Regions from separate parts of the Homo sapiens genome. Here region 1 is linked to region 2. Evidence: fine-mapped expression QTL. A gene starts in region 2. The other region holds a variant in brackets. All regions are shown on one strand. Distances are from middle to middle. Region 1 overlaps TANGO2 (transport and golgi organization 2 homolog). Region 2 holds the start of TANGO2 (transport and golgi organization 2 homolog).

Region 1 (4,349 bases), 44 kb after region 2:
CTGTAATCCCAGCACTTTGGGAAGCCGAGGTGGGCGGATCACCTGAGGTCAGGAGGTCAAAACCAACTTGGTCAACATGGTGAAACTCTGTCTCTACTAAAAACACAAAATTAGATGGCTGGGTGGTGCACGCCTGTAATCCCAGCTGACGGCTGGAGCCCCGATGCTAGCTACAATGGCTGGCTTGAGTGGACTTCTGTCAGGAGAATTGCTTGAACTCGGGAGGTGGAAGTTGCAGTGAGCCAAGATCGTACCATTGCGCTCTAGTCTGGGCGACAAGAGTGAAACTCCTCCTCAAAAAAAGAAAATAAGAGAAAAGAGAAGAGAAGAGGAAAAAGAAAAGAAGAAAAGAAACAACCCTTGCAGTTCCCCGGCCACTCCCCAGAGCCAGTTAGGCCACCAGGTGGGCTGGGGCTAGACCCGGCTGCGGGCGGGCCACAGAGGGACTAATGGCCACCACTTCTCTCCATCCTGCAGGCAGCTGCCAGACCCGGCCATCGAGGACCAGGGTGGGGAGTACGTGCAGCCCATGCTGAGCAAGTACGCGGCTGTGTGCGTGCGCTGCCCTGGCTACGGCACCAGGTATTGCAGCACCGTGGGTGCGCCACCTCCTATCCCATGTCCCACCTCCCACGCTAGAGGGCCGGCAAAGAAGCCAAGTGCCCATAGCCAGAGCCAGGCTTCTTCCTCGCCTGAGTGGATTCCAGAGCTTCTGCCCTGTCCAGACGCAGCTGCAGGGTGAGCAGATACCACAGGCTCCCGGGGCCCCACAGGCTGGGCTTAAGGAGCCAGTACACAGCCACACAGGGCCAGGATGGCTTCAGGGCTGCCTGCACATTGGTGGATCCCTGCGGGCAAACGCCCCGGCACCATGGCACTAGGCCTGCAGGCTGTACCCTTGGGTGGTGGCTGCTGGCCAGCCTTTCCTGCCTGGGGCTGGCTGGCCCATTGGCAGGTGCAGGGTGTCATTTCCTTCAGCCCCTCCTCTGTCATAGGCTCATCTTCCTGTGTGTGAGGGGAAGGCAAGTGCCAACTCCACTCCCTGGCAGGCCGCATAGCCGCTGGGTCCCACCCCACGGGGTGCACTGCGTATGTGTCTGCCCTGGGAACCAGCCTGTGCTGGGGCTGTTGGGGGATCCAGGGCCACCCTCCGTCTGCAAAGCCCACGGCAGAGAGGGTTGGAGGAGAGGAGAGTGTGCTGAATGTTTGCTTCAGGTGGGCTGGCATGGCCTGGGCAGTGGAAGAGAGGGCACAGGAGGGAAGCCTTCCAGACAGAGGAGGCCTGGGCCCCAAGTGGTCAACAGCTTGACCTCTTGGAAGAACCAAGCATGGCTGTGTCTGGGAACCTGGGCCTCCAAAGGGGAAGTGTGTGGTCAGCCCGCAGGCTGCCCTATGCCTTGGCTCATGCTACACGGGGAGAGCAGGGCAGGGTGGGGTGGTTCCCAGTGAAGGTGGCAGGACTCAGCAAGTGTGGGCCTGTGGAGCCAGCCAAGAGCTCACACGCCACTGATGGCCCCTCATCATCCCCAAGACTGAGGCTGCTGCTCTCTGTGACTTGGCACAGCCTCCAGGCATGGGGTTCCTAACTCTACCTGCCTGCATTCTTGCCCTATTTGTGGCTGTGACAGGCAGGGCAGGGCTGAGGGACACCAGGTGAACGAGGGCCCCTGCTCTCTTTCAGAACCAACACTATCATCCTGGTAGATGCGGACGGCCACGTGACCTTCACTGAGCGTAGCATGATGGACAAGGACCTCTCCCACTGGGAGACCAGAACCTATGAGTTCACACTGCAGAGCTAACCCCACCTCTGGGCCTGGCCAGTGGGCTCCTGGGGGGCCCTGCCTTGAGGGGCACTGTGGACAGGAAACCTTCCTTTGCCATACTGCATTGCACTGCCCGTGGCTTGGCCAGCATCCCCCGGATCAGGGCCCTGTGGTTTGCGTGTTACCCATCTGTGTCCCCATGCCCAGTTCAGGGTCTGCCTTTATGCCAGTGAGGAGCAGCAGAGTCTGATACTAGGTCTAGGACCGGCCGAGGTATACCATGAACATGTGGATACACCTGAGCCCACTCTTGCACATGTACACAGGCACT[C/A]ACATGGCACACACATACACTCCTGCGTGTGCACAAGCACACACATGCAAGCCATATACATGGACACCGACACAGGCACATGTACGTGCACAGGTGTGCTACACATGTGCACACATGCACAGTTGCACAGACACACACACACAGGTGCACACACACGATGCCGAACAAGGCAGAAGGGCGACTCTCACCTCTCATGTGCTTCTGGCCAGTAGGTCTTTGTTCTGGTCCAACGACAGGAGTAGGCTTGTATTTAAAAGCGGCCCCTCCTCTCCTGTGGCCACAGAACACAGGCGTGCTTGGACTCTTGACAAGCAGACCTGCTCCTGCAGAGGAGACAGCCACATTTGGAATTGGGCACCGAGAAGACCTGAGAAAAACCCACTCTCTCTTTTTTTTTTTTTTGAGACGGAGTCTTGCTCTGTCACCCAGGCTGGAGTGCAGTGGCACGATCTCGGCTCACTGCAACCTCCGCCTCCCAAGTTCAAGCAATTCTCCTGCCCCAGCCTCCTGATTAGCTGGGATTACAGGCGTGTGCCACCATGCCCAGCTAATTTTTGTGTTTTTAGTAGAGACGGGGTTTCACCATGTTGGTCAGGCTGGTCTTGAACTCCTGACGTGGTGATCCACCTGCCTCGGCCTCCCAAAGTGCTGGGATTACAGGCGTGAGCCACCACGCCTGGCCGAAAAACCCACTCTCATAACAGAAGTGCAGACTCATTGCTAGATTCAGTGCCCTTGAGTGTGCCAGAGGTCCTCTGTGTTTGAGACAATCCTGTGTGTGCCAGGAGGCTCCGTGTGCACCAGGGGCTCTCAGAATCCCGCTTACCCAGCTGGAGACCATGCCTCTGGCAGCCCCATCTCAGCCAGCCCTGCTCTCTCCCTCTTCCCTCCAGGTGAGGCAAACTTCATAGGAATCTGTACCTGAATGTGAGCTCCTGATAATAAAACTCTGAGGCTTTGGTGAGCGCATTTCGAGGCCTTTCCCTTGTATGCAGGGTGCCAGTGGGAGCTGCTATGTCTCCTGTGCAGCCAGACACCCTGGACGAGGCCCTTCCCACCTCCCCCTTTCCTCACGGCTTCTTCAGCACCACATGTGGATGCCTGTGGGTCAGTCCATCTGTCCATGGGCAGGGGCCGCTGTGAGAGACCCCATGCGCGTGGGATGTGGTAGATGCTGATTATGGGGCCAGCCACCCATACAGGTCTATCAGGTCGCAATGGAGGCCCCACTGGAGCGGGAGGCAGGCTGGCCTGGACTTCTGTTGGATGATGGGGGCCAGGGGATGGTAGGAGGGGCAGGAGAGCAGGTCTGCATCTGTCTCAGCCCCAGGAGCTCCTGGTTTGGGGCCAGCTCTAAGGAGCTTCATCCCTGAGCCTGGCCGAGTATAAGGGGGTCCCGGATATCCAATGCTGAGACCTAGACTTTTCTAAGCCTCTGCACCCAACCCCTAACTTGGCCTTTTCAGACCCATGAGAGTGCAGGGTGGGTGTGGACCTGCGCCAGGGCTTCCCAGCCTGATTGTGACATGATGTGAGTCCACCTAGGGAGGAGCAGGGGCCTCCCCGTCTCTTCCCCTTCTTGCCCAGACCACTTTGCTGGGCTCAGAGCCTTCCATGGCTCACTTTGAACTCAGAAGAGTTTCCCAGCTGCGACCCAGGCTGCACCCCCAGGCCTGAGGAGAAACTGAGGCCCCACATCCCATACGTGTCCTCTGAGTCAGGACAACAGGCTCCCGGCTGGGGGCACTGCCCTTGCTGCCAACACATTCACCTGCCCCAGTGGCTACCATGTCCTGTGCCGGTGACCAGTGCCAGTCCCCAACCTGGATGGTGCCCTGCCCTCATGAAGAGCCCCCCGGATGTTCACCTCTGCCCAGAGACCCGGCCTGCCCAGGAAGAGCAGTCTCTGCTCTTGTGTGGGTCCCTCTGCCCCCACCCTGCCCAGGGCTCCCCAGCAGCCTGAGGCCCCTAAGGAAGAACAGCCCTCAATGGTGATTCTATTGGTGTTATGAGTTGTGTCCCCAAAGAGATATATCAGTGTCCTGACCCACAGTACCTCAGAATGTGACTGCATTTGGAGATAGGGTTCTTCCAGGGGTAACCAAGGTAGAATGAGGTCGTTAGTGTGGGCCCTAATCCAATATGACGGCTATCCTTATAAAAAGAGGAACATTTAGGCTGGATACAGTGGCTCATGCCTATAATCCCAGCACCTTGGGAGGCTGAGGCAGGAGGACTGCTTGAGCTCAGGA
Region 2 (4,378 bases):
AGTCGGCCCATTAGGCTGCAGCCAGGGGTCAGAAACACAACAAGGGAGGCTGGGCGCAGTGGCTCATGCCTGTAATCCCAGCACTTTGGGAGGCCAAGGCAGGCAAATCACCAGAGGTCAGGAGTTCGAGACCAGCCTGGCCAACATAGCAAAACCCCATCTCTACTAAAAGAATACAAAAAAAAGTAGCGGGGCATGGTGGTAGACGCCCATAGTCCCAGCTACTTGGGAGGCTGAGGCAGGAGATCGCTTGAACCTGGGAGGCGGAGGTTGCAGTGAGCTGAAATTGCACCACCGCACGGCAGCCTAGGAGACAGAGCGAGACTCCATCTCAAAAAAAAGGAAAAAAGAAAAAGATAAGAAAAACACAGCAAGGGAGACCACAGGGACCAGTAGCCCAGTGTTCTCCCTCTCTCATCCTCTCACCTAGCTCCATGCGGACAGCTGTGAGGCCCCCGGAGAAAGCCACAGAGAGAAAATGCTTTCAGCTGGGTGTCAAGAACTTTTCAAGAGTGGCAGCTGTTGAAATCAAAAGAGTGGCCACAGAAGGTAGTGAGCTTCCTATCTGAGTTTGTGTGCAATTAGAGGTTGGATGCCAGTGAGCCTGTTGCAGCCCCAAGATCCCAGGGCTTAGGTGCCCATCCTAGACCCATTTCATCTGCCGTCACCTGCTTCCTGGCATCGCATGTCATCCAGACTGGAGTGTCAGTGGTGACAAAGAAGATCAGAGTGTCTGCTCTGGCTCTGTCTAGCTGGGAAAAGTATGGCTGGGGGTGGGGATGGCCCAAGGCCACAAGGTATGACAGAACAGGATGCAAACCACCATCTGACATGTTACTGCATCCCTCTTTGTGGGCAAAGGGAAACCTTGGTCAACTCATGTCCAGCTTTGAGGTGCATGGCCTGGTGCTTTGGGGAAGCCCATTCTCCAGGTGCTGCCATGAACCCCAGGGCACAGTCCATCACCCCCAAGCCCCAGATCCCACTTGTCCACCACCACCACCTCTTGGCCCTATAGATTGCATAGGTTTGGCTGCTCAGAGGGAAATCACTGGTACCAGCCCCACATGATCCCACTGCTGGATGGTGGGAGAGACAACCATGTCTGGCTGGGTCTGCGGCCCGCTGGCCATGAGTCCCTGGGCATCTGGAGTCCTTGTAAAAGGTTCTGTTGGGTTCCAGGGGAAACACAGATAAGATAGCAAAAGTGTGGAGCACAACGGGCCCGCATGTAGGTCCAGGTTAGACTCTTGCCGTTGCTGATTACCAGCCAGGCTCTTCCCATCCCTGAGCCCCAGTTTTCTGCAGGGCATCAGGGCACCTAGGTCTTCAACACAGGTTGAAGCTAATGTGGCCTCTCTTGCTTGCCACCTTTTTCAACTTCAACTGAATGACATAACTGCTCCAAGTCTCAGTGTTTACATCTATAAAGTGGGATGAAAGAACTGCTGACCCAGACATTGGGTTTAGAGTGCTTTACACATTATCATTATCCCTAATGTCTTTGTCATCCATGTCATAGTTTTTTGAATGCTCACTTTGAGGCAGGGCCTGAGCCTCTGGGCTTTGACTCTCCACCTTTCTGCCACATAGGCCCAGGCACAGCCCAGAGGCTACAGGAGCAGCGGTCCCAGCTAATGCCTCTGTCCTGTTGGGAGGGCCCCAGTCAGTGCCCACCTGCTCACCCTGCACAAGTCAAGCTGGGCCAGCCCCTCGTCGCTGGGGCCTGGACCTGGATGTGAGCTCAAAGGCTACACTGGGGGGTGGAAGTGGGGGAGGTGGTGGGTGTGCAGGGTATAGTGCTCAAATGCCTAGTCCAGGGTCTGGGGGTACATACTGGGAATGGCAGGGACATCAGGGAGGAAAGAGCCGACCTGGAGGCCATAAAGTGAAGGAAGGGATGACCAAGAGGAAGATGGCCAGGTCCAGAGGTGGGGTTGAGTGAACAGGATGGGGAGACCAGGACGCAGTCTGAGGGGGCCAGTCCGGAAGTGAGCATTCCTGTACCTCTTCCGAGAGAGGCCGCAGGGTGAGCAGGTGACAGATGGTGTCCATGAGGGCATGGACTCAGGGGCGGCTGCGACCTCCCATGGCGTCCCTGCAGGCAGGGAGCCGCGGAGTCCCCGAAGGCCGCTGGATCAGGAAGCGCTCAGACGCCCGCGCAGCCCGAAGCTTTGGCGCAGCCCCGGGGGCGGGGCGCCAGGAGGTGGCAGCCTCCGAGCGACAGCGCGCCCAGCCAACGGGACGCCGGCATGCGGCGCGCCGCCCCGCCCCTCGCTGCGCGGCCCAATGGTGAACGCGCCGGCTTCGGGCTGGGCGGTACTGGGCTGGCTGCGGTGGCGCGCGGGCGCGGCACCCGGAAGTCGGCGGCGGTGGCGGAGGCGGTGAGTGCGCGGCTCCGGGGCTGGCCGACTCCGCTAGTGGCCCGGCCGGCCTGGGCTCGGGGGCTCCGGGCTCTGGGCTCTGGGTGCGCGGACCGGGCCAGGCTGCTTGAAGGTGGGTGGGCTGGCCGCACTTCCTCACCCTGCCTCAGTTTCCCCTTTCTGAGGTATGGTATAGAATCAGGCGGCTGGGTCAGGGGCAACCACGTCGATCCCGGCCGACGAAAATGCCCCGCGCGTTACTGGAAGGTGTTTTTGATAATCCCCGCTGGCACGGGATGCGAGGGACTCTGGCAGGTGGGACCAGACTCGCTGCGGGGAGGCTGAGATCGGCAGGGTTGGGAGCTGCGTGGTCCCTGCAGGGTGTGTGGGCTGCTCGGCCTTGGCCAGCATCAGGGACAGCTCTGGCGCCCGGTCACTCTGCCCCCTACCCGCGGCCTGCTGCGGGCCAGCAGGGTGACAGCTAATGTGGGTGTGAGTAGATAGTAAGTGCTGGGTCATCCCTGCGCCTGGATGCGGCCTTCCTGGGGAGGTTTGGGTAGTTAGATCCCCCACCCCCAACTCCAGAGCGTCAGAGGTAGGGGCTGGCAGGGCTGCACTCAGGGCAGTCCTTGCCCCACCGCTGGGCTTTGTAGCAGCCTGGGCTTTGCCCGTTTTCCTCTAGGAAGTGGGCACAGAGGGCTGTTTGCTGAGACCCCCACCTTCCCTGCCCCTAGCACCTCTCCTGTGCTCCCTTGGCTTCCTGCTGGACCACAAGCTTTAGAGTGAACCGTCTGCCCTTGGACAAGTCCCTGGGCCTCAGGCCCCCTTCCTCTTCAGGAATGTCACATGCCCTGCCCTGGCCAGGCCTGTTTGCACTGTCGTGTGGCTCTAGACCTGCTGACCACTGTTTTGCTGCCACTCTGGGCACAGTGCCCTCTTCCATGAGGCAGATGTGACGGCAGCTATAAGGGGGTAGCTGAGTAGCTCTTTGGAAGGCTTTCTCACGCTAGCTCATTTGCCTCTGGGCAGCCTTTTGGGGCAAGCATTCATTGATCCAGTCCTGCTCATACAAGGAAAACTCAGGCTAAGGTGGCAGATCGTGTTCCCAAGGTCATTCAGAGCCAGGGCCTGCTCCCAGTGCCTCTACTACTCCTGGGCCACTCTCTTAGGAGTGTCCCTGTGTCTGTGTCCTGCGTCTGTGTTGGGTGGGCTGGGAGCAGCTGGAGAGGGTGACCATGTTGTTAGATGGACACAGCAGAGCCTCTGTTCCCACAGGATCCTAGTGCTCTGGTGGTCCAGGGTAGGGTGCCCTGGTGCCCCCACCCCCTTTGACCCCTACACAGCTTTGTGTTACTTGCATGTCCTCAGACTGCAGGCCCCTCAGACCAAGCCCCTGCCTGCTGTGATGTGTGGTGGCCATAGCCCTTCCCTGAGCTAAGGTGACCAGCTGTCAGCTCTTCCTGGGCTGCCCAGCCTCTTGTGCTTCCTTGGTCTTCACTTGTGGGCTGTCATTCTGATTACGTTTTGCAGTGTGTGGAATCACGTGCAGTGTCCTGGGAACTTGATCCTGTGCCCGGCTTCTGCGCCAGACGGCGAACTTGGAGGGCACCCCGGTGCCCACCCAAGGGTGCTGCTTCTGAAAACACCCACAGGGATATGAGGGGCTTCTCAGGGACCCCAGAAGGGGTCTGGAGAGAAATGGCCCGGGATAGGGAGGCTGGGAAGACTTCTCGAAGTAGGGCCATGCTTGTCATTGACACTCCAGATGCATGAGAAGCAGGGCCCATCCTTTGGTGACGTGTCAGTCAGCACATGGCAGCAGCATGGCAGAGCCTGGCCTTTGTTGGCCCCTACCATAGGGCTTGGGCTGTCTTGAAAACAAGCCTATCCCTACCATGAGGATGGGCTCCGTGAAAACAAGGTCACCCCAGAAAGACTGAGCTGCTTTTTGAGGTTATCACAGCTTTTTCCCCTTTTTCTCTCAACTTCCCTTTTAGACTGCAAAAATAGTTTAT

The links.
Region 1: its variant is fine-mapped to the expression of TANGO2 in whole blood (TOPMed, PIP above 0.99).

Annotation. Positions count from the first base shown.
Region 1 is chr22:20,062,861-20,067,209 of GRCh38, forward strand. TANGO2 (transport and golgi organization 2 homolog) reads left to right here. Exons shown (of 9, transcript NM_152906.7): 8 at 478-582; 9 at 1,682-4,304. The coding sequence ends at 1,802. Among named protein-coding and RNA genes, the nearest start is that of DGCR8, 15 kb to the right of the region's middle. RefSeq lists an enhancer at 3,248-3,748. The variant C/A (reference allele first, on the strand shown) is at 2,098.
Region 2 is chr22:20,018,751-20,023,128 of GRCh38, forward strand. It overlaps TANGO2 (transport and golgi organization 2 homolog), which reads left to right and starts at 2,360. Exons shown (of 9, transcript NM_152906.7): 1 at 2,360-2,496. RefSeq lists a silencer at 2,123-2,512 and an enhancer at 3,113-3,162.